Linked DNA regions of Homo sapiens. The protein of the gene in region 6 purifies or fractionates together with the protein of the main gene of each other region. This does not show direct contact. Each region holds a gene or a part of one and is shown on either strand. Other genes may lie near its edges.

What was found.
Region 1: the proteins of PPM1H (region 6) and LPIN3 purify together in Homo sapiens (affinity purification with mass spectrometry, with the first as the bait; one large-scale study listed by BioGRID). This does not show direct contact.
Region 2: the proteins of PPM1H (region 6) and MELK purify together in Homo sapiens (affinity purification with mass spectrometry, with the first as the bait; one large-scale study listed by BioGRID). This does not show direct contact.
Region 3: the proteins of PPM1H (region 6) and RTKN purify together in Homo sapiens (affinity purification with mass spectrometry, with the first as the bait; one large-scale study listed by BioGRID). This does not show direct contact.
Region 4: the proteins of PPM1H (region 6) and MAP3K21 purify together in Homo sapiens (affinity purification with mass spectrometry, with the first as the bait; one large-scale study listed by BioGRID). This does not show direct contact.
Region 5: the proteins of PPM1H (region 6) and KIF13B purify together in Homo sapiens (affinity purification with mass spectrometry, with the first as the bait; one large-scale study listed by BioGRID). This does not show direct contact.
Region 7: the proteins of PPM1H (region 6) and PLEKHA5 purify together in Homo sapiens (affinity purification with mass spectrometry, with the first as the bait; one large-scale study listed by BioGRID). This does not show direct contact.

The regions. Positions count from the first base shown.
Region 1 is NC_000020.11:41,354,321-41,357,820, reverse strand, and holds part of LPIN3 (phosphatidate phosphatase LPIN3), read right to left. Parts: intron 3,177-3,500; coding exon 3,084-3,176; intron 3,002-3,083; coding exon 2,958-3,001; intron 1,926-2,957; coding exon 1,787-1,925; intron 782-1,786; coding exon 633-781; intron 461-632; coding exon 374-460; intron 222-373; coding exon of another isoform or gene 1-221. UniProt on the Homo sapiens protein: Magnesium-dependent phosphatidate phosphatase enzyme which catalyzes the conversion of phosphatidic acid to diacylglycerol during triglyceride, phosphatidylcholine and phosphatidylethanolamine biosynthesis therefore regulates fatty acid metabolism.
Region 2 is NC_000009.12:36,670,395-36,673,894, reverse strand, and holds part of MELK (maternal embryonic leucine zipper kinase), read right to left. Parts: intron 2,898-3,500; coding exon 2,729-2,897; intron 1-2,728. UniProt on the Homo sapiens protein: Serine/threonine-protein kinase involved in various processes such as cell cycle regulation, self-renewal of stem cells, apoptosis and splicing regulation. Has a broad substrate specificity; phosphorylates BCL2L14, CDC25B, MAP3K5/ASK1 and ZNF622.
Region 3 is NC_000002.12:74,435,438-74,438,937, forward strand, and holds part of RTKN (rhotekin), read right to left. Parts: intron 1-3,500. UniProt on the Homo sapiens protein: Mediates Rho signaling to activate NF-kappa-B and may confer increased resistance to apoptosis to cells in gastric tumorigenesis. May play a novel role in the organization of septin structures.
Region 4 is NC_000001.11:233,330,724-233,334,223, reverse strand, and holds part of MAP3K21 (mitogen-activated protein kinase kinase kinase 21), read right to left. Parts: intron 1-3,500. UniProt on the Homo sapiens protein: Negative regulator of TLR4 signaling. Does not activate JNK1/MAPK8 pathway, p38/MAPK14, nor ERK2/MAPK1 pathways.
Region 5 is NC_000008.11:29,253,071-29,256,570, forward strand, and holds part of KIF13B (kinesin-like protein KIF13B), read right to left. Parts: intron 1-3,500. UniProt on the Homo sapiens protein: Involved in reorganization of the cortical cytoskeleton. Regulates axon formation by promoting the formation of extra axons. May be functionally important for the intracellular trafficking of MAGUKs and associated protein complexes.
Region 6 is NC_000012.12:62,690,651-62,694,150, forward strand, and holds part of PPM1H (protein phosphatase 1H), read right to left. Parts: intron 3,350-3,500; coding exon 3,286-3,349; intron 1-3,285. UniProt on the Homo sapiens protein: Dephosphorylates CDKN1B at 'Thr-187', thus removing a signal for proteasomal degradation.
Region 7 is NC_000012.12:19,132,733-19,136,232, reverse strand, and holds part of PLEKHA5 (pleckstrin homology domain-containing family A member 5), read right to left. Parts: intron 1-3,500.

The DNA.
Region 1 (3,500 bases), on a different chromosome or scaffold from region 6:
TCTGGCTTTAGCCTGCCCAGCCCAACTGTGGGACTCTGATGTTCCAACCTTTGCAGGGAGGGGACTTGAAGAGAACGGCCAGGCAGTGGACTCAGCTGGACGGTGCACAGAGTCCTGAGGCCTGGGTGGACCAGGATGGAGAGGGCCTCCCCTCCGGCTGCAGGCCAGTAGGTGGGCCCTGATCCTAGAACACAGCCCCAGGGGATGAGCCTTTCCCAGAACTGCGGGCCAATAGAGAGGTCTCAGCACTCCAGGCACCTGCCCTGGCAGCCTGCCTTGTGGGCCCTGCTGGTCCCCAAGATGTCCTGTCCTGTCACTCCCTCTCTAGAGCTGGGGGCCTCGCCTCAGCCCCAGCCCCAGCCCAGGCACTCACAGTTGGATTTTGTGATAGAGACTGGTGATGCCCTGGTGTGTCCAGTCTTTCCCCAGCTGGGGCAGGATATGGCCCAGAGCATCTGACCTAGAGTGAGAGAGGAAGGGTTACTCCAAGGCAGCTCCACGTGGCCCAGCTCCAGCCCCAGGATGGCCCACCAGGAAGGGAGGGCTCCTCTCACTCCCCACCACACCCAGCACAGAGGGAGGCGAGTCCACAACCCCTCTCCCTCCCCTTCCCACAGCTGGGTGGGCCTCACTTGGTGATGGTGCCGTCGATGTCAGAGATGACCACCTTGTCGTCCCATTTCCACAGGTAGATGGTGGCCTTGCAGCGGCAGGTGCCCTGGTACTGAGTGGTCACGCTGAAGACCACATCATTGGCACCTTCTTGCAGGTTCAGGCGCCGCTGAGGCCAGACAAAGGGGGGTGTGTCGTGATTGATGACAGCCAGGCACTGCCTACCTCTCCCCTTACGCCGTGGCCTCCGATCCCCTCGGGCCTCTCATTCTCCTCTTCCTCCCAGCTCAGAGATGCTTCTTGGATTCATCAGAGATAGCCATGCACAGACACATCCATGTGGGCAGAGGGTGGCCATGCTGATCAGGGCCCTGTCCAGTGCAGGCCACAGGAGCCCTAGCCTCCCTTCACTCCCCTTTGAGATGTAACCCACAAAGCCGCATCCATGACTCCCTGCCCAGGATTCCCAGGCCAGCCCCAAGGCTGGGACTGCTGTTGGCAGGAAAACACCCCCCTCCATAGATGGGGGTCCTGTGGGGATCTCCATAGGAAGCCCCTCCTTGGGGCCAGGGTACCTGAGTCAACATTGTCCTAAGGAGAGGCCTAACCCTGTACTTGATCCATAGGGAAGGATCAGGGCCGCTTCCCACCAAAGCCCTGAGTTGAGTGTGAGCTCCAGGGTACCAGACAGATGGCAGCTGCTTTGTACTGGCTGGTCAGCCCCTCCTGGACACTTCCCTGACCATGGAGCCACAACCATGAAGAAAATATGTTCTTATTCCAGGAGCCACCAGTTACTGAGCTTAGAGAAGAGGTGACTTGGGGCCAAGGGTTGCCAGAATCTGAGGGGCTGTCATTAGCATTTGATTCTTTTTAGTGTTGCTTCCAAGGGCTGACCTAGAGCCTGCTGGCTCACTACAGGTTGATATCTTAGGAGGACCTAAGAGACAGCTTTCCCGGTGTCTGACAGACAAATGGGCTGTCATGAGAAGTGAGCGCCCTGCCCTTGGAGGTATTCAAGTGGAGGCCATCAGGGAGGCTCCCAAGGGGATAGATTCTGGCCTTTGGTGAACATGTGGCTCCCTGGAGCCATTTCTCAGCCAGGTCCTGAGGGACTCTAAGACAGAATTAGCTCAGCCCCTCCCCAACCTCCACACAGACAACCCACACTTACGATCTGATCGGAGGAGAGGCGGAGGGACTTCTTGTAGGTAGGAGTGGAGGGTGGAGTGGAGGGTGGCAAGGAGGGGATCTCCAGGATCACAGGGCTGTCTGGGGCATCGTCATCACTGCTCAGGACTTCTGTCTTCTCCCTGTGGACCACACTGGCTCTCAGGCCATCTCCTCCAGCCAAAGGGCCTTCACTCCCGGGAGATGCCAAGAGGAGGCTGGACCTGTCCCCGCCATGCCAGGGCCTACCCAGGGTATCAGTGATCCCTCCCTCTAGGTGCAACCCATTTGGAGTGGTGGCAGACACAGGGGTGCAGGCTGGCAGTCTCCACCCAGCCAAGTGACAGCAGAGGGTGCCGAGACCCAGGGTTGCCAGCCCTCAGTGTCTGCCTTGGAGATATTTACCTGAAATACCTAAAGTGTATCTCTGGGCTTATTCCCAACCCCACCTGCTTTGGTTTCAGTCAGGCCATCCTTAGCTACTCTCCACCCAGCCTTAGGCAGCTGGGTCACTTCAGATGTGGAAAAGAAACAAAGTCAGCTGGCTTATTTGGGCTGCGAGAGGCCCTGCCCCTCCTTAATAGGGATCCCCTTGTCTGGGGCAGGAGCCTGAGGACCTGTGTCAGCTCTGCCATTTCCTGGTTGTTGGCCAGGAAATGTGTCTCTAGGCCTCATTTTTCCCATCTGTAAAATGGGGCCATTTCTCAGGAGAAAGAAAAGGTATAGAAGTGCTTGCGGTGGCTCACGCCTGTAATCCCAACACTCTGGGATGCCAAGGTGGGCAGATCACCTGAGGTCAGAAGTTCAAGACCAGCCTGACCAACAGGGTGAAACCCTGTCTCACTAAAAATACAAAAGTAGCCAGGTGTGGTGGCGGGCACCTGTAATCCCAGCTACTCAGGAGGCTGAGGCAGGAAAATCGCTTGAACCCGGGAGGTGGAGGTTGCAGTGAGCCAAGATCGTACCACTGCACTCCAGCCTGGGTGACAGAGCCAGACTCTGTCTCAAAAACAAACAAAAACAACAAAAAAAGAAGTGCTTGGTGCTTGAGGAATGACAAAAAAAAAAACCCACAGCTGGAGACAGGGTGCTGGCTCCTCCCTGCCACCCACCTGCACCCAGGGCCATCTTTCCCAGGCTCCCCCTGCAGAGCCCCAATAGGGGGTCTCACTCACCCCTGCTGCTCCTTGGCTGCAGTCTTCTCCTTCTGGGCACTGCGCTGTGGAAAGAACATCCATTAGTGAATCCCACCTCCCGCCCTGTGCTGGCCCTGGCCCTGGCCCTCGACTGTGACCACCCACCTCCTCGGCCAGGAAGTCCCTGCGTCGCCAGGAAAACCACCATCGCCCACCCTTCCGGGGCATCTTCTCCCTCTCCAGCTTGTCCATGGTGCTCTGTGGGCAGATGAAAGCCATGGCAGTGTTTCCTGCACCACATAAACCTCCTACCTTACGTTGTTCTTGGGACCCTCCACGCATGAGCCCAGAGTCTGAGCCAACCCTAGGGTAAGGTGCTGTCAACATCTGGAGGCCAAGGAAGTGTGCTCACCTCCATCCTGGGATTCCAAGCAATGACTTGGGTGAGCTATACTCAAAAGACCAAGGGCTATTCCTGCCCCCAGCCCCGGTCCCTAGCTCTAACCCAGCCTCAGCCTGGCCTCCAAATCTTGTGGATCCATTCCTTTACTAGAGTAGTTAAAAGCAATGCTTTGGGAGTTT
Region 2 (3,500 bases), on a different chromosome or scaffold from region 6:
AACTGATTTCGAAAACATAATTAACAACAACAACAAAAAAACCCTAATGATATAAAGGTTTCCTTTTAAATAAATTTGAGTTTTAAAAAATTATCTTGATTGTGGCAATGGTTTCACAGATGTTATATATAATGCCAAAGCATATTAATTGTACTTTAAAATATGCACAGTTGGCCGGGTGTAGTGGCTCATGACTGTAATCCCAGCACTTTGGGAAGCCAAGGCAGGAGGATTACTTGGGCTCAGGAGTTCAAGACCAGCCTGGGTAACATAGTGAGACCCTGTCTCTGCAAAAAAAATTAAGAATTAGCCAAGTGTGGTAGCACGCATCCCAGCTACTCAGGAAGCTGAGGCAGGAGGATGACTTGAGCCCAGAAGGTTGAGGCTGCAGTGAGCTATGATCATGCCATTGCACCACAGCCTGGGCAGCAGAGCAAGACTCTGCCTCAAAAAATTAACAACAAATAAAATAAAATAAAATATGTGCAAGTTTATTATATGTCAGTTATATCTCTATAAATCCATTTGTTAAAGGAGAGTCAACATAATGAAAATACCAGATAAATAATAGTGCACCCAATACACCCATAGAGCAAATGTCGTGAAACTGAGTGTTAACGAAGGGACCCTCTCTTTCTTGGTTCCTGATCCAGCACTCTTTTCACCAAACTAAATTGGCTCTGTTAAGATGATATTAATAATAAACTGAACACCTTCAAATCACAATATATTACTGCTTTGGTAAAATAAAGAATGAATCCTAATTTATCTACTTAAATTTTGGATTTTTTATAGACTGCTTCCTAAAAGAGGACATAACTACATATGATTTGCTATCTTAAAAAACTAAGGTATTATTTCTACTATCCTTGCAACTCTTCCGGTAAGTGTATAGTTTTTAGTACAGTATTTGAAGTAGGTGAAAAAAAATAAGGTTAATTTCCCAAAGAAAGTCCTTCAGTTTTGCAAAAACTTAAAAGCATTAAAAAGTGTTAATGATCTAAAGTTAAAGTTTTCAATCTTAGGACTGTGCTAATTAGGACCATGGGTCTATACATGGGTGGTAAAATGCTCAACACTGATAGTAATCCTTGACATTGGAAACATGTCACCTTATACTCATAAAGCATTTAATATGCCATGTAGCATCCCATATGTAGAGTCTTGTTTCTACATCTCAGCCGTGTGAGGTTGCCAGGGTAGGCATTATTTCCAGATTTTACAAATGAAGACACTGAGGAGATCAGGAATAAAATGATTTATCAAAGCTATACAGCACAAAGCTGGAGCCAGAACCCAGGTCTTCTCATTCCCAATCCTGTGGTTTTTCTCCTACATTCTGGAAGTACTGGAGAACTACCTAGAAAGCCAACTAACACCACAGTAGTTTCTATTGAAAAATGCATTCAGGTTCCAAAATATTTACATAACTGACCATTTTTAGAACATTATCCGTTAGTATTTGGTAACTGCTTAGCTTCTCAATAATGTGTATATATGTGGTTGAACTAGTTTCCTTAATTTTATTTAACATTTTTCAGTGCAATGGTACTATGGTTTTTTTAAATCTCAGTGTCGGTGCTTGAAATACTTAACTATCTCCAACCAGAGAAATTTCAGAACAAAAGGATAAAATATGCCTAATACACAGCCATATGTAACGTCTCAGCACACTACAAAAGTTCAAGGTAATGACTGCTAGTGGATAACTCCTATCTTCTTCCACTTTAAGACAGAACAGAAATGAGATCACAGAACATTCTCCTCTAAAACACCCTTCTGCCCAAAAGCTCAGCATTTTCCTTCCCTCAAACCGCCCAGATTTGCTCATTACGAGAGTCTCAGTGCAAAAACTAAACATAGACCCAGTCCCCAAATGATGGGCACACTACCATCTTCTCCCCTGCTTGGGCCCACACCTCTTGGAATGTGTTTTTACTATAGCACTGAGCCCAGTGTTTCAGAACAACATCCCAGCCTGTTTTCACAGCCAGCCTAAGAGTTCCTCAAGGAATGGGCTGTCTCATTCGTCCCTTTACCTCTTAATTACTCCCCTTCCACCAAACAAACATGTATTCATCAGATGTTTGAATGAATGCTCAGAGAGAATCCAAGAGAATAAAAAGTACTTTATATCAACTAACAGCTTATTTTTCCTTTCCTTCCTTGACTAAATATATTGTCCACACCAGTGACACATTAACCCTTTTAAAGCATACTGGGTCTATTAAATAAGATCCACACCTTCTTAGCCAGGCCTTGAGGCCCTTCCGGCCTACCTTCCCCGCTTGTCACTCACTATTTTCCTGACACACACCACACTCAAAGTTCCAATTATCTTCCCATGCATTCAAATATTTCATGAGGGCCTACAAAGTATCCATGAATCAGGGACACAACTGAGCTCAAGTCCCCCTCCTTAAGGCAGCTCTCAGCTCTCCATCTGTGCCCCCTGCTTCCTCACCTCCATGTTGCCCCTGTGACTAATCCCTCCACCTGTTCTTGAATATTTGAATGATAGCTGTTTGCTCCTTGAAGGGAGTGACTGTATCTATTTACTGACTGCACAGTAACATGCAGATTTTAGTTGCTCAAAAAACATATATTAACTAAGTGAATAAATACTCAAATAAAAAACACTAATCAATTCATTCAGCACCTTAAAAAAAAAAGGCAGTCCATTAGCAGTCAGCTTCTGCTCCATATGAAAGAATTCCAGCCTGCTTACCTTTAGTCTTCTGGGCCCGTCTCTGGCAGAACCCTTCCTTTTGCTCCTGGTGAGCACAGTGATAACCTTATCCAACCCCCTTTCAAGGCTCCCAAACACTTTGGCTCCCTTTCTTTTTGGAGTCTCCTCCATATGTGCTTGGTTGAGATCCAATTCCACTGAGCGGCACCTGAAACAAAACATAAAACAAGGCACAAGTAGAGCTGGGCCTCCGGCCTGTGGGGTCCACAAGGGTGAACTTTTGTCCCTTCATACACATTAGGATGCCTCACTCAGGTATGCCAGGGCCAGATCACCTCTCTCTTCCTCAGGAAGCACCAAAGCCATCTCCCCCTGGACAGGAGCTGTCACACTTCTACCAGGCAACTGCCACTCAGCAAAACTATTTATCCCCTTCCTTTTTAAAAAAGGATATATATATCCTTTTTTCATATATATAGAAAAGTTCAAAGAAGAGTACAATGAACACCGGTATATCCTCCTAGATTCAACAATTGTTCATATTTTGCCACATTTGCTTTCTATTTGGATATAGATAATATATTAATGTACATATGTATATAGATATACACTGATATATATACATCAATGTATATATCTATATATACACATAAATTTAATGTATGTAGATAATACATTAAATTTACTTATTTGCTAAGCCATCTGAAAGTAACTCATCTGAACATATCATGACACTTTACTCTGAAACACTTCAGTATACATCTCCAATGAATAAGGATGTTGTCTTCCATAAAGACAACACCATAAAGTG
Region 3 (3,500 bases), on a different chromosome or scaffold from region 6:
GTGGTAGCAGCATTTACTCAGTCAACACTGGAGCATCCCTGTACTGTCCAAGGTTGTACATTTAAAATCCAGCTGGGAGGTGAGAGATGATGACTTTAATGGCTGCTCCATAAGTGCCATGTCATGGCACAACCATGCTCACAAGAAACAGCCTCTGTTTGCTTCTGGCTGAGGTGATCAAGGAAAGCTTCAGAGAGGAGTTGGAAGACTAACTCTATCACAGTGTACAGATTGGTTCAGGAGACAAGTCGAGCCATCCATTTGAAACAGGGGAACTAATGTGACCACTCCAAACCTGTCTTTTTCCTCACACCAGCTCTCCTCCATACACTGTGCCCTTGCATCTGTCCCTAGTGGCTCCAGCCTTCAAGTCTCTCAGACCCGAACACCCTAAATTCCCTCTTCTAAAAAGCCTTGTCCTGCCTGCCTACAGATGCTTCCTTGGCTATTTTCTGGGCCACTGTGCTAGGCCGGACTTTTATCACCTTCCCCCATCACCATCCACCCGTTTTCCTTCTGTAATAAGCCAACCCTTTCCCAAAGCCCCTCACCAGGAAGCCCTTTCAGACTACATAGGTCCTCCCAGTCTAGTTTTGTCTGCACCAGGGTTCTGCGCTGCCCGACAACCCCCACCCCAGTCTGCACCCAGCTTCAGCCACAAACATCCCAAATGGGTGAGCCTGGCAGGAGGGGGACACGGAGGTGTCCTCAACCCCCATCTTGGCTAGTCTCATCCCAGTCCCAGCACTCACGGATCCTTCCCCAGCCCGCTCCATTGCGAGAGGCGCGCAGAGGCGCGCGAGGTCCAGAGAGCTGCACTGGCCTGGGGAGCCGGCTGGGTCCGAGGGCCGCGGGAAATCGGAGGAGCCAGGGCGCCAGCATAGCTGCACCGCCTCCAGCTGCAGCGCTCAGGACGCCGGTGACATCAGCTCCCAATTGCCGCGAGAGCAACTGAGGGGTACCAGGGCGCTGGAGGTCCCTCCGGGCACCTGGCTGGGCTTGGCTCAAGGCGGTGCCTCCACCGAGACTCCATCGCGGCGGGACCGGACCTCCAGGAGTGCGCCCGCGCCGCCCTGGAAAAGGCTCCTGGCCTTCACGACGTGCTCCAGCTCCGGGAGGCCCCTCCCGCGTAGCGTTTGCCCTCCAAGGTGACCCCTTGCCTGAGAGTATGGAGGGCGAATAGTGTATAAATTGGGAGAGCTGGGGCCCTAGGGAGGTCACTGGGCCCAGCATGGATGAGTGGGACCACGAGTCCAGACACCTCCTCTATTTCCCTACTGATCTCCAGCCCCAAATCCACTCTCCCAAGGCCCAAGGCCGGGAGCGCCCTAGGAAACTGGCTCCCACCCTTTCAGGCAGAGGAACTGGGAATCCTGGCTCAGGATCTGGACCCTTGTGCTTCTAGCGTTTCCCCAACCCAGGGATAGTTCCTTGTTGCCCCCTCCCCACCCAAACACACCCTCTCCCCAAGCGGGCAGCATTTCCCCTGGGAAAGAGCGCAGAGCTGGGTGTCAGCTGGACCCGGGTCAGATCCCAAGGGGCTAGAGGATGAGTCATGGGCCCCACACACATTAGGCCCCCTGTTGATATCCCTTCCACCCCTCCCACTCTCTTAAGTCTCTGACTTCCTGCTCTGCTTCTCACTACCCTTTTTTCCCTTCAGAATCTCCACCAGGGCTAAGTACAAATCCTGGTTTAGGGACTTGACAAGCCCACAGAATTTGACCCCTGGAACCTGAGTTTGTAAAATGGGGAGTATTCCACCTCCTTCGTAGCATTGTTTGAGAATTATATGGGAAAGTCTCATCTCTACCTGGGCCTAGCACATATTTTAAAATAAGCCCCCTTTACTTGCAACTTGAGTCACTTCCTCCAGAAAGTCTTCTTGGATTTACTCTTCCACGACTATCTCTTTTGCCATTCCCTGAAACATCAATGGGTCTCTCTTTTGAGGACCTGCTGAACTTGGTTGAGAAAGAACACAGCACCCTCAGCCACTCTCCTAAAGGAGAGTGACCAAAGTGAAACTAAGCATCTCCTCTGCCCCAGAACTTGAACAGGCCTTCCACAGAGAAAATTTACATTTTTTGGAGGAGGGTAGGATGCAGAATTTAAACATTTACATACCTAGACCAGCTCTGTCCAATAAAACCTTCTGCGGTGATGGAAATGTTCAGTAGCCATCTAGCACTTGAAATATGGCTACAGCAACTAAGGAATTAATGTTTTGTTTTATTTTAATGAACTAAAAGTAAGATTTAAATAGCCATATGTAACTGATGTGGACAGTGCAGAGGACTATGAATGGCAAATAGGTTTTATCTCATGCACTGATGGAGGATAATTAGGTAGAGTCCCAACGAGTTCACTGGACACCTTTCCACAAATTAGAAAAAGCTGACCCTCTCCAGGCAAACAAATTAGATAAACGTGCTCCCTCCTGATGCCGCTGAAACCAGACCAGGACTCTCACCTCTGGCTGGCACCTGTGTGAAGGACACAACCTGCACAGTTTATGCCAAGACGGTCCTGAGAAAGATTCTGAGGCCAGGTCTGGGCTCGTTGATAAAGAGTGCCAAAATTGACCAGTAACATCTACTATGATCCAGGGAGTGGGGGCAGGGCTTGAGGGGGGACAGCACATACAATATCCTGCCATTCCTGATCTAGACTCTTTGCAGTCCTGCCTCTGACCTCTCAGCAGCAGCCCCTGCCTGGTCCAGGCAGTCACTTCCACAACTTCCTCCATCTTCCCCATCTCCGTAAACAGCCACACCACCCAGTTGCTTAGCCACATACCTGGGAATCATCCTGGAGTTCTCTTTCTTTGCCCTCCCATCCAATCCATCAGCAAATCCTGTCAGACCTACCACCACCATTTGAAATCTACTCCCTTTCTCCACCATGAGCATTTTAATTCACACCACCAGGTTCACTCCCACCTGAAGTGGGAGTGAAACAGCCTCCCACCTGGTGGACATTTGCGAACTCTCTTGCCAACCCTCCACCCCCAACCCTACCCTCAACTTCCCACCAGCCTATTCTCCATAGCAGCCATCATTTAAAAACATGGCATGAGTCATTCCCTTGCTTAAAACCCTTCCATGGCCCAACATCACACTTAAGGTGAAATCCAGGTGCCTTATCATGGCCTTCAAGGCCCTGCATGATCTGGCCCCTGCCCATCAGCTCCACCCCAACTACTATATTCCAGCCACACTGGCTCTCTCTTTCCCACAAATATATTACCCTCATCCTCATATCAGGGCCTTTGCCCTTCCTCCAGTCTTCACATATCTCCAAATCCTCCTGGGCTTAGCTCAAAGATCTCCCAACAGAGGCTTCCCCTGACCTCCACATCTAACATTGCCTCCCTCATCTGATTTTCATTACATCCCCATTTTCATCATAATTTCTTTATGTGATATTATTTATGTGTTCGTATGTATATTTCTGTTCTCCCACTACAATGGAACTTTCTTGTCTTATTCACTGAGGTA
Region 4 (3,500 bases), on a different chromosome or scaffold from region 6:
TTGAGACCAGCCTGGGCTACACAGCAAGACCTTGTATTAAAAAAAAAAAAAAAAAAAAAGTCCAGGCACGGTGGCTCACACCTGTAATCCCAGTACTTTGGGCGGCCGAGGCGGACGGATCACGAGGTCAGGAGATCAAGACCATCCTGGCTAACACGGTGAAACCCCATCTCTACTAAAAATACAAAAAAAAATTAGCTGGGCGTGGTGGCGGGCGCCTGTAGTCCCAGCTACTCGGGAGGCTGAGGCAGGAGAATGGCGTGAACCCGGGAGACGGAGCTTGCAGTGAGCCAAGATCGTGCCACTGCACTCCAGCCTGGGGACAGAGCGAGACTCCGTCTCAAAAAAACAAAAACACACACAAAAAAGCCAATGCTGTTTCCCTTAGCTGCACTATTCTGGTAGGTTTAGCACTTAAATGCTAGTGTGAAAAAGCAGGGCTTACAAATGACCTTCTTAAATGGGTAGAGCAGATAAATACTTTCCTCTGTCTCCTTTACCCTGCTTTGATATACTTGATAATGATTACAAAACTGATCAAATACGGATACTTTGCATAATTCAGAACTAACTAGCTATACCCCTCACAACTACAAAAAAATAAGACATTGCCTATTTTTTTTTTTAATTTTAATATTTGTAGTCCAGGGTCTCACCATGTTCCCCAAGCTGGTCTCAAACTCCTGGGCTCAAGCGATCCTCCCACCTTGGCCTCCCAAAGTGCCAGGATGATAGATAGGTATGAGCCACTACACCTGGCCAGCTACTTACTTTTTAATACGCAAACATGAAAATGATGGGGGAAGATGTGGTGACTCTTTTGTGATTGCCATTCTTCTAAAAGTCTAATCTTTCACTAACTTTGTTTCAAAAGCAGATGTAGATCTCAGTTACCATTGGGACATCTGGACTGACTTCTCTGTGCCTCCTGGAATAGGAAGCAGCTATAGCATGAAGCTACATGTCCTGAGTATAAGAACAGAAGAGAGAAGGAACTTATGTCTTACAACTGATAATAGTGAAATTAGTAGCTTCCCCAAATCACTCTGATGAGCTATTTAAACATCTTATCTGGAGATTACATTTTCCATAATTTTCTCAGATAGTTCTTTTATTTACACAGTACTAATGAAAAAAAGCTAAAACAAAATTTATATTCCTTTTGCAGTTTGTCATAGTAAGAGCTCCAAATGGCATTTCATAATAAATACAACTATTGTAGTTGTAAATAATACTGTAGATAGATAATAATTATTCCTAAAAGACTAAAAAAATTGAGATAATAAATGCTTAATCACTGACATAAAAAGTATAAAAGTAAGTAGCTACCATAATTTGTGGCTCAGTTCCCCATGGAAAGTTTATTTCCTCTTAAGAAAAAAAAAATAGAACACAATAAGCAACATCAAAAAAGAAAAAGGAAACCATACATGATGCCACATAATCTTACTTCAATCTTGCACTTCTGCAATTTGATAAATAAAACTCTTAAACAAAATTCTAATATTTCAAACCATCCTTGGGAATTCTTATATTGCAGTATTTTATCTTCACTGCCCCCTGGTAACCTCCCTGCAAAATACTTCCATTGCTACCACTCTGGGCAGAGTCGGTGCCTCCTCTCATATAGACAACCTTGAAAGCCATCACTTGAGCCCACTGCAGTCCGTTCTTCACAGAAGCCAGCACCATCACTCCAAGTGAAACCTCCATGTGCACAGCAGAGGGAGGCCTGCCAGGCCTGCCCCACGCATGCCTCTCCTCACCAGCCTTCTCCTTAGGCCTCCAATATGGAAGGCTCATTTTTGCTTCCTCTTTCCTTTGCCTGGGTCTTTGCTTGACGAATTCGTGGTCCTTCCTCGGAGTGCCTTCCCTGGAGAGCCCCTGTGTGAAACAGCACCCCCATCCTCCACTCTACCACTCTCCACCCCTTACCATGCTTAATTTTCTTGATGGCATTTTCTAATCTATTTGTTATTACGTGACTGCCATCTATCTTCCCCGTTAGACTAAGCTCTATGATGGCAGATTTGTTGTCATTGATGTCTGGCTTGCCAGTGTCCCTGAGGCCCAGAAGTGACTGGCACAGGGTGGGCATTCCAACAGTGTTGAATGAGTTCCAGCTCTCCACAATGTTTCTCTCTTCTGTAAATGCGCATAACACTGGCGATTTTCACAGTAACTCAAAGTTGCCTTGTATTGTTCTCTGGGGGGTGCCTATAGGTAGACTTATATAAAGTATTTTCTACTTATTTTGCATCCAGAAGGGAGTTACAGGGCCTAGTATTTATTTAAAACATAAATGTTGCTTAAAGCTTGCTAACTTGGCACAACTTTCAACCTGTTGCTACCTGTTAGAAAAGGGACAAAGTTGTTTATATCATTCACAACATATCAGCTATTATCTAGACACAGACATTCCCTCACAAGATATGATAAAACTTGAGAAGATCTACTAGAAAAGATAAAAGAAAATCTGTCAAGAGTAACATATTCTCTAGACAAATTTAAATATTTGTTTAAAACAGTAATTTCCACTGAATTGGCTCCAAGTAGTCTTCTATTAGCTCTTTGGTACATGAGTACACTTCGGAGTGAAAATAAAATTCAATATTGATTTTTAAAACCTTGTTTACGTTATCACTAACTCACTACCACCATTAGCAAATATCCAATAAAATCAAACAAAACATACTGCAATAGAGTATCTGTTATACTTAAAAGTCTAAACAAGAAGTCATAGCTTCATATATCAGCAGAGAATTTCAAATCTGCATTTATTCATTGAACAAATAAAATCAGACATTCAGGATAAAGACCATGTATGAGGCACCATGGTTTGCACATTCTAGACCCCAGTCAAACTCTTCACTTTATAGTAATTAAATAACTATGATAATGGTCATATTGTAACAAATACTTGGCCAGGCTAGTGACTAGCTAATTAAGTCTTTTATAAGAGTGCAACAATTTAAAGCAAAGGGAATCCTGCCTGACAATTATAGAAATTAAAATACTCCGGGAAGTTTGGCAATTTATTCTGAGACTGAAAAGTCTTTCAAAAACTAAGTAGCAGCATGTAATCACCATCAAATTATGTAATATCTACTGAATACACAGTAGTCTATACTCCACTATACAAGTTTTTCTGGTGTCAGTAAAAACTGTTCGGCCATAGTTATTATTCCAGGGTCATGTTATTTCTTTTTACCATTTAATAATATTAGGAGTTCTTTAAACATTTATATTTTATAAAAGTTTATAAAACTTTATAAAACTTTATAAAAATTTACTATTTGCAATAATTGCTATGGATTGTTGATTGATCCATAAATCCTATGGATTAACCCATAGGAATGGATAAACATCCTTTAAAACATGCTTTAAAAACACTAGCAAACATTCTCTACCCTGTGTTGTATGAACTTTGAAAAGTATTGCAACCAAACAAAACTAAGTGCAGTGTAAAAGTAATAGCTATAGGCCCTTTAACTTTTTAG
Region 5 (3,500 bases), on a different chromosome or scaffold from region 6:
TAATTAAAATAATCCCCCAGCTACTTGGGAGTCTGAAGCAGGGGGATCACTTGAGGCCAGGAGTTCAAGACTAGCCTGAGCAACACAGCAAGAACCTGTCCCTAAAACAAATTTAAAAAAAATAATTAGCCAGGTGTAGTGGCATGCACCTGTAGCCCAGCTTCTCAGGAGGCTGAGATGGAAGGATCATTTGAGCCCATGAGTTACAGGCTGTGATGAGCTATGATTGTGCTACTACACTCCAGCCTGGGCAACAGAGCAAGACCCCATATCTGAAAACAAATAAAATAATCCTATGTGACCAAAAACATAAAATGTTCATACTCAAGAAATGAATCAGCTGGGTGCAGTGGCTCATGCCTGTAATCCTAGCACTTTGGGAGGCTGAGGTGGGAAGACATCTTGAGCCCAGGAGGTCAAGGTCATAGTGAGCTATGATCACACCACTGCACTTCAGCCTGGGCAACAGAATGAGACTCCATCTCTAAACAAATAAACAGTTTAAAAAAGAAACCAATCAACCTCAGAAGACTAAGAAACAGGTATTTAAAAAACTCATAAGGCACCTGGCCAACATGGTGAAACCCTATCTCTACCAAAAATACAAAAATTAGCCAGGCAGGGTGGCAGGCACCTGTAATCCCAGAAACTCAGGAGGCTGAGAAAGGAGAACTGCTTGAATCTGGGAGGCAGAGGCTGCAGTGAGCCAAGATTACGACATTACACTCCAGCCTGGGTGAGAAGAGTGAGACTGTCTCAAAAAAAAAAAAAAAAAAAAAAAAAAACCCGCTTAAGGCAGAACTAGAATAGCCAAAACAATCTTGAAAAAGAAAAACAAAGTCAGAGGACTTGACTCCCAGTTTCGAAACTTAATACAAAGGTAGAGTAATCAAGACAGTGTGGTACTTACATAAGGAAAGACATATATACATTGATGGAATGGAATTGGGAGTCCAGAAACATACTGTCACAGTTATGGTCAATTGATTTTGACAAGGGTACCAAGACAATCTAATGGAGAAAGAACAGTCTTTTCATCAAATGGTTCTAGAACAACTGGATATCCACATGCCAAAGAATGAAGTTGGATCCCTACCTCATACCACATTCAAAACTCCAACTGGATCAAAGATCTAAATGTAAGAGCTAAACCTATCAAACTCTTAGAAGAAAACAAATGAAAATCCACATGATGTTAGATAATGGTTTCTCAGAAATCACAGCAAAATCACAAGCAACTAAAAATAAACTGGACTTCATCAAAATTTAAAACTTTCATGCATCAAAGGACACAAGGGAGTGAAAAAGAAACCCATAAAATCAAAATATTTGCAAATCATCTATTTGATAACAGAATGGTATACAGAATGTATGAAGAAGTCTTACAACTCAGTAATAAAAAGATATAGTTTTTGAAATAAGGGGAAGATGTGAATAGAGATCTCTCTCAAGCTATACAAACGGCCAATATGCACATGAAAAGACGCTCAACATTATCTACCAGAGAAAGGCAAATCTAAACCACAATCAGATACCACCTCATACCCACTAGGATAGCAATACTCATGGAGAGAGACAAGAACAAGTGTTGGTGAGGATGTGGAGAAAGTGGAACCTTCATGCATTTCTATGGGAATGTAAAATGGTTCATATGCTTTGGAAAACAGTTCCTCAAAAGTTAGTTACTATATGACTCAGAAATTCCACTCCTATACATATGCGTATCTGAGAAAAATGAAAACACATGTCTACACAAAAGCCTGTACATAAATGTTCAAAGGAGCATCATTCATAATAGCCAAAAATTGGAAACAAGCCAAATGCCCATCAATTGATGAATGAATACAAAACACAGCATATCTGTGTAACAGAATGTTGTTCAGCTATAAAAAGAATGAAGTATTGATTCATGACAAAACATGGATGAGCCCTGAATACATTATACCAAGTGAAAGAAGTGAGATACAAAAGTCCACATAATATAGGATTCCATGTATTAAATGTCCAGAATAAGCAAATCCATAGAGTCAGGAAGTAGATTAGTGGTTGCCAGGGGCTGGGAAGTGGGAAATGGAGACTGACTGCTAACAGTTACAAGGTTCCTCTGTGGGGTGATGAAAATGTTCTGGAATTGTATACTAATAATGGCTGCACAAGTCTGTGAGTAAACTAAAACCCAGTGAATGGTACACTTTGGGGATGTGACTTATATCTAAAAACCAAGAAGAAAAAACTCGGAATGGATGACCCCAGTACCCTCAATAGATAGAAAATACAGTTAGGGTCCTTCAACCACATTCCTACACATTCACTACTCAGAAGACCCCAGCTCACCCAATTCCTCCTACTTTCAATAACCTCACATTCTACCCCATCAAGAAAATTAAGCTTGAAATTCCTGGGCTTTCCCATTATATAATTATTCTCTTCCTCCCATATTTCAAAAACTTCTATCTATTGGCTCTATCTATACAAGGTTCAAATATCTCCCCAAAACTTTTTTTTTTAAAAAAAGGTACCTACCCCTCCAGGTACCACTCTGAACCCTCCCCTTCTACCTGGAGTTTCTCAGAGGAATGTTCTTGAGACTCGCTGCCTCCATACTGGCACGCCCACTCACTCCTCAGCCCACTGCCAATGCCCAATACCAATTAATTCGTTTCAGTGAAATTATCCTGAAAATGAACACTGACCATCATAATGCCAAATCCACTGAACACAATTCTGTGTTAATCACGCGGCCATTCCTGTGACATGTGATTGCTTTCACCTTTCACTCTTTTGACACATTTTTCCTCCCTAGGCATCCACAACATTGCTTTCACCTGATTCTCCTGAGGTTGCTCTTCTTGGCCTCTGTGACCGCCTCTGTCACAGACACACCTGAGGTGCTCTATCTTCTACCTACAGTAATGACTCCGAAATCTACACCTACGTCCAGTCCCTTCGTTTCAGACTCATATTCACAATGGCCTTCTGGATCCATCCACCTGGCTGCACTTCAGACACCTAAAACTCAATTGTGCTGAGTTGCTTCCAGGCACACACTGCATCTTATTCATAGTTGCAGGCAGGGTACACAGCACATAAGCACTGACGACACACTGTTGACTGAGACTAGAACTCATCATTTCCCACACCTCCACCCTAAAACCTGCTTCTCCTGTGCTTCTGATTCAGTTAATGACACCAGCATTCACCTAGTCATCTAAATCAGAGACTTTGCAGCGGATTCCCCAAGTTCAGTGATCCTCAGATGCCGACACAAACCCACTGTATGTGCAGCACCCATCTGGATTCCTCCACGTCACCCCGGTGGAACTTGGAGCCAAGGGGCCTGCTTGTGCTGTCTTCTGTGCTGTTCTCAAATTCCACCCCCATTTCTTTAATTCATGATTGGCTGCCATCAGTGCACTAGGTACATATATTCTTCCAATGAACTCACATGTGCATCTTATTATCAACAAGACTGGGAGCTCCTTTGATGGAAGATCAAGACT
Region 6 (3,500 bases):
AAATGTCTAAGGCCTCGTCCCTACTACAAAGAAACTTGGGGCCACGTGCGGTGGCTCTTGCCTGTAATCCCAGCACTTTGGGAGGCTGAGGCAGGTGGATCACTTGAGGTCAGGAGTTTGAGACCAGCCTGGCTGACATGGTGAAACCCCATCTCTACGAAAAATACAAAATTTAGCTAGGCATGGTGGTGGGCACCTGTAATCCCAGCTGCTTGGAGGCTGAGGCATGAGAATCACTTGAACCTGGAAGGTGGAGGTTGCAGTGAATTGAGATCATGCCACTGCAGTCTAGCCTGGGTGACACAGTGAGACTCAGTCTCAAACCAACAAACAAACAAATAAAAAAACCAAAAAGAAACTTGGTAAGGGAGATAAGAGGGAGATGTGTAATTAATAACACATAAAATATGGTTAAGTACTGAAAAACACATAGACAATGGGTTATGCAAGTTTAGAGGAGGTAAAAATTCTACTGAGAAGGCTCCACGGAGGAGGTGGCACTTAGCACAGAAAGGTGGATTGCATCAAGACAGGCGACACAGAGGGATGGAGTGAAAGTCATCCTGGGTGGAAGAAAGCAGTGTCCTAACCCTTAATCATAAAAAATATATCCGGTGTAGTGAAATGGTTCAAAGACCTGAGCTTGAATCCTCACTCTATTACCTGGGTGATAAGAGTAATTACCTCCTATGAGTGGGGATGAAGTAAATAAATGCTAAGAAACACTGCAATTTAATATATTGTCTTCATCTTCATCCTAGACTGTCAACAGGGCTGTGAATTTTGAAGCCAGCCTTGGTTCGGAAGGTAGGCAGAGTTCACATTAAGCAGAAATGAAACCATGACACCTTTTTGAGGGCAAGGGTCAGAGGGGATAAAGACACGAGACACAGCCAGACACAGTAGCTCACATGTGTAATCCCAGCACTTTGGGAGGCCAAGGCAGGAGGATCACTTGAGCCCAGGAGTTTGAGACTAGCCAGGGCAATGTGGTAAAACCTCCTGACTACAAAAAATACAAAAATTAGCCAGTGTGGTGGCATGCGCCTGTAGTCCCAGCTACTCAGGAGGCTGAAGTGGGAGGATCACCTGATCCTGGGATGTCGAGCCTGAAGTGAGCCGAGATTGTGCCACCGTACTCCAGCCTGATGCCATGTCTCAAAAAAAAAAAAAAAAAGTGATGCAAAGCAAAGCCTGGGGCCCTCTGCCCTGCTGGGAGGCTGGACTGGCTCCCTTCTAGCCAAGAAGTGCTCAACTCTAAATGTGAAAAATTCTGAGTCCCTTGTGGCTCTCCTGCTCTCCTCCCTGAAATGGCGGCTTCTCTGTGTGCTCTTTCCAGCCAAAGAAATCTGATGTTTCTGCTAGTGACTGACCTTGTTTACGAAGTATCCAGGTGTTACCCACACCAGTCTTTAAAAGCATCTGAAGAAAGAAAATGAGAAGTAATGGCCACAGAAGTACTCTGAAATTTCTGCGTAGGGGTACGCGGAGAAGAAAGAGAAAATCCCAGTCCAGGATCTAGAAGGAGCTCCAAGAACTCATGGAGTCCTCAGAAAGGGGTGGTATCTACCAACAAAAGCAAAATGGAGACATGGTGGCTTTTAAATAGGCCAACAGGTACACGGACAGAACTTGCCACCTGCCCATCGCAAGACCATCAAGCTTAAATTACCTGAAATGCTTGAGGAACATGATGTTTTGGTGAATTGAACTTTATACTAAAATTAGAAAACTCTTGCTCCTTCAAATCTTACTGCTATAAACTTCCAAGAATACATCATTCCATTTTCCTATTGTACTAAGGAAAGTATACTGAACATAACTGAACAGCTTATTTAATACTTATGCATTTATGTCAGGTACCAGGCTAGACAGGAACTAGAGATACAGGGGTAACAGAATGTGTTCCTGAGTTTACTGGAACTCACTGGATATTAAAGGGTAATACAGAGAATCTCAGCCCCACAAAGAAATGGAGCTGCAGGCATAGGTCATTGGGCTGAATGATACTCATTAATGGTGCCCATTGTACCAAAAGGCACAAATATTTATATCAGAACAGTGCCTATTAGCCCTGACACGATTCTTAACCAGAGACTGTGATCTGAAAGGTGTTCATTTTCATGAATGGGGTATGTTCGTTTAAAAAATGATTCCTACATGGATCAGATATTTGTGTTTGGTATTCCTCCTTCTGTTGAGATGTCTTTTTGCATTGAAATCACTGCTGGTCTACACGGAGCCCAAAACCTAACCATGTTTGTTCTCTTGCTTTTGCTCTGACACACACACACACACACACACACACACACACTCTGCCCATGGAAGGCATCCTTTGGTTTTCTTCTGAGTCATTTCTTCTTGATAAAAACTATCGTATCGAATGCTGGAAAAATTATCAGTTGAAGACTCTTCTCAATGTGACCACATTTTTCACTTGGAATGCTTCACACCGAGTTGAAATGTATTAGTGTTCCGAGGAAGAATGCAATGATTCAGAAGGTGTTTGTTCTTACTAGGAAATAGATTCCAAGCTTCTTGCTCTCCACTCCAGGATTTCAACCTCCTCCAGGCCTCTGCTCAGAGACCACTTTAGGATCCACAGCTTTTCTTTGGTTCGACAACGTGCTGTTCAGTGCTGGATTCTGACTGGAACCCTGGGAGCTGATGATGGTCTTTGTTATCTTAGTCTGGACTCTGGTTGCTGTGACCTTATAGTCTAATTACAGTGACGCTTTGGACTCTCTTCCATGGGGCAAGTGGCAAACAGACTTGCAAAGTCTGGACTTCCATGGTGGAGTCTGAGACGCGCGAAGCAGACAGAAAGCCAAGGCACCACATCCGCAGCTGCCCCTCGCTTGGCTGCGTGATCTGCCTGAGCTGTTTTAACCTCACAGTCCCAGCTGCCTCGTCTGCCAGATGGATATAACACAGCCAGCTTGACCTGCCTCCTTGCTCGTTGTCAGATATAAATGAGATGATGTGTGTGAAAGTGGTTCATGTTTAAACACTGTAAAAAGTTATTCAAATGGATTGGGAAGGGGGACTTTATTTTCACAAAATTGGCTTGAGTCCCTTGTGCTCACCGCCCACCTCCCACCCCCACTACTCCTTGGACCCTGAAGACAGGAGGCCTGAAGGATGATGGATGGGATATGCTTTCAAGCTGTCAAGGCTATAAAATCACAAGCTGCTGAGTGGAACACACGGACTGCCACGGGCTATGTGGAGCGAAGGCGGGACAGAGCCCTGTCCTCTCTACCCAGGGGAAGCACACGTGCCTACCTTCTTGCCTTCTCCATATATAAGGGGGAACTTCAAGTCCTCATCCTCAATGGTTTTGTATGCCCTGTAGGGGATAAACAACATTTTAAAAAAGGTTTGCACTCAATTAGTGACCTGCTGCCCTGACACCGACTGCTAGGGATTTCATTTTCCCTGAGACCCCATCCACTCACCACACTGACTACCTCTTCCTTTATAGGGAGTTGTTCTCCCTA
Region 7 (3,500 bases), about 44 Mb from region 6:
AATTATTCAGAAAAAAAGTATTAAATATCTTTAAAGATAAAGATTTTTGGCCAGGCACCATGGCTCATGCCTATAATCCCCCATTTTCGGGGACCAAGGCAGGAGGATTGCGTGAGCCTAGGAGTTCAAGATCAGGCTGGGCAACATAGGAAGACCCTGTCTCTCTCAATCAATCAATCAATCAAATTAGCCAGGCATGGTGGTACACACTTGTGGTCCCAGCTACTCGTAAGGCTGAGGTGGGAGGATCGCTTAAGCCCAGGAGGTCAAGGCTGCAGTGTGTTGTGATAGAGCCACTGCACTCCAGCCTGGGTGACACAGTGAAACCCCCCTCAAAAAAAAAAAAAAAAACAAAGTAAGATTTTTCATATTTTACTGTTTTTTGGCCAAATGGATGTGAAGGAAAATACATTCTCTATATTACATATTTTTTTAATCTAGCTGCAAACTTGTATTAAAGAACCAATTTCAAAGTGTATAAAATAAACTGATTAACTCAAACCTATACAACTCTTACGCTGATCAGGTCCTTTGTTTACATTAGCAGTACTATCTGTTTACATGAAGATATGTATACAAACATTTTACAAGGAAACGTAAGCACAAAAAGCAGCAAAAGAAAGTACACACAACCCTGGCACTACATACATCATACTTATCTGTGATTGTCTATCCAAAGCTTAAAGAGGGAGGATAAAATAGTTAAGAAGGATAGAAAAGCTAGCTTTCCATATTTCCCGCATCATCTCTGCTTGGCATTGTGAGTTCCTTGTTTTCCAGAATATTATAAATCCCAGAACAGTACAAAATTCAAAGAAATTTAGAAATGGAATTTAGAGGTTGCCTTTTCCAGGTAACCTAATTTAAAGACGTGAAGACTGAGCTCCAAAGTCATTAAGGTCAAGACCACATTTCAGTTCCTATGACTTCCCCACTACAATCCTCTCCTCTTACCACCTACAGAGATGCAAGTGTCAATACCAAAATATAATTAAGAGATAAATTCTTTCTGGTAACCTGCCATTTTTAACACCAACCAACATTTGTCCAGGAGAGGAATAATTTAAGAGTTATATATATTTCACTTCACAATGGAAGCAGAAACAACTGAAATTCTTTAGGTCTCCCTTCTTGCAGTGAGAACTTTCCAGAACACAGGATTAGGAATAGTCAAAGGGCTGACATGTCTTTTATTGGCATTCCTATCTTTCCACTTCCCATGTGAACAAAATCCACCCCGATAACCCTGTAACCTCCTTTACATACAATTTGATCAATAACCACCTTTCTTCATCTGAGAAAGAAATGACAATGAAAAACTATAGCCACCAACACGAATCACTTTCCTACTTCAGACTCCTATCTTTTCCTCCACTCTGAATATTCTAAATATAGTTTATGTTCCTGGGGTTTCTCATCCTGCTGTCTTTGCAAACTGTAAGTTCCAAAGGCATGTTTCTGCTGTTTTATTATGTGTGTGACAATGGGAGTAGTAACTCTGACTACTTCATGAATGAATAATGTATGTGAAGGTACTCTAAATTGTAAAGTTTAAGATAAAAGTAGTGCCCCTATCCTATTAGAATGATAAATAACAATACAAACAAGTAAAAAGTTTCTAGGAAATTACAGTGCACATTAGGGATTTAACTAACCTTAAAAGAAATTAGTCTTCTGACATTACCCAGAAGATAAAGCAGTAGCACCTAACATTCAGTACATCATATATTTATCAATGGTTAGTTTTTTTAAAAGTTTAATGAGTGATATGCAACACTATGCTCAATTTTAGGAGAAATTACTTCCATAATATTATAAGTTATTTATTGCTACTTTTGGACACAATTACTGGCTATGAATACCAAAATGATTAAAACCTACAAGTTTAAAAATGTCTTTAAAGTAAAATTATTATAGCTTTCTTAATATTGTCTTAATTTTCCAGAGAAACCTACTTAGGCATTAGACATGGCACTCAAATAAAATTCTAATTTGTTTAAGTAAACATAAAAGAAAACCTAATCAAAATGGCTCGTAAAACAAAAGAAACTCACTCAATGTCTTCCTAACAGCTTAGTTCTAAATTAAAACATACATACTCAGCCCACACAGAATAAGATTTTGTACTATCAAATAAACATTCATCCAAGAATGCACGCAAAGAAATTAAAATGTTATTGAAAATTGAAATGTTACCTCTGTTTTTATAAGATGAGCTAGGCTTAATGTACAGTAGTCAAAATTACATTGAATAAATGACCTGAAATGAAAAAACTGTTTTTCTTCACATATACCATACTACTAGCTTGACAAGAAAAGAAGTATCCCTTTTCGTGGCAATATCAACTCACTTTAATTTAGGATGGAAATAACCAATAGAAAAACATTTGATGACTGCATTTCACTCAAGTATTTTTTTAGGCCATCTAATAATGTATAGTATAATCTCCAAAGAAAAGATTTCACCCAAAAATATTCACAGAAAGACCATACCATGAAACTATTCCATTCCTGTATCTTCTGCTTTCTCTATTTCTACATCCAAAAGCAAGCATTCCTAATACTTATAAAAAAGCCCTTGACGTTTTATCTAAGTATCTTTCTAAAAGATTAAAGAACCATACAGGTAATTATAATTTACTGGAAGTATAACATGATCTTAAAAATGTCACAGTAAAAATAACTTTCTAGGCTCAATGAAATAAAGGTAACTTTAGCTAGGTATCTGTTATTGTTTATAAACTACTGAAGTCTTAACCCAGTTTGGCATTTCAGCATTCTCTTTCATGTCTCAGTTTATTAAAATTAAAGAACAAATAAGGTTAAACAATAAAAACAAACTCTTAGGTAAATAGTTTCTAATATAAAAATAAAAAGACAAAACCACCCATATTTTTCGTTGGGGGATTAAAATTTTTCCTACATGATGTTGACCTCCAGCTTTGTATTTGTCTCCAAGTAGTACTAAGTTATTAAGTTTGAACATAAATTAGTTTAATATTCTAAAGAACTGGTTTTAAGATTGGGACTGACTGGTCATCTTTTCTCTCAAGCTCTACTAAAAGCCTTTTTTAAACAAACATATCAATAAAACATCTTGACTTAGACATATTTAAATAAACTGAGGCAAAAATACAAACAATGCTCCAATATATGCTCATGAAATATTCAGTAACTATTTCTATTTTTACTCCCTGACCGTCATTGTTTATCAAATTGTGCCTAGCTTTACATCACTTTTGCTACCTATAAACAGCCCTGGTCAAAATATACATGAACAAGGTTCACTAAAAAAAAAAAAAAAAAAAAGATGTTCACGTAACTCAGATTTTTTTTTGTTTGTTATCTCTCAGCACAGATAATCAAAGATCAAAACTTTAAGTACCACATAGCTAATGACCAATAATCCTCTATTACCCAGGAATATACACAGAAGCACCAAAAAAAAAAAAAAAAAAAGGTAATTGTGGTCATATTCTGATGAAGCTGGACGATTCCAA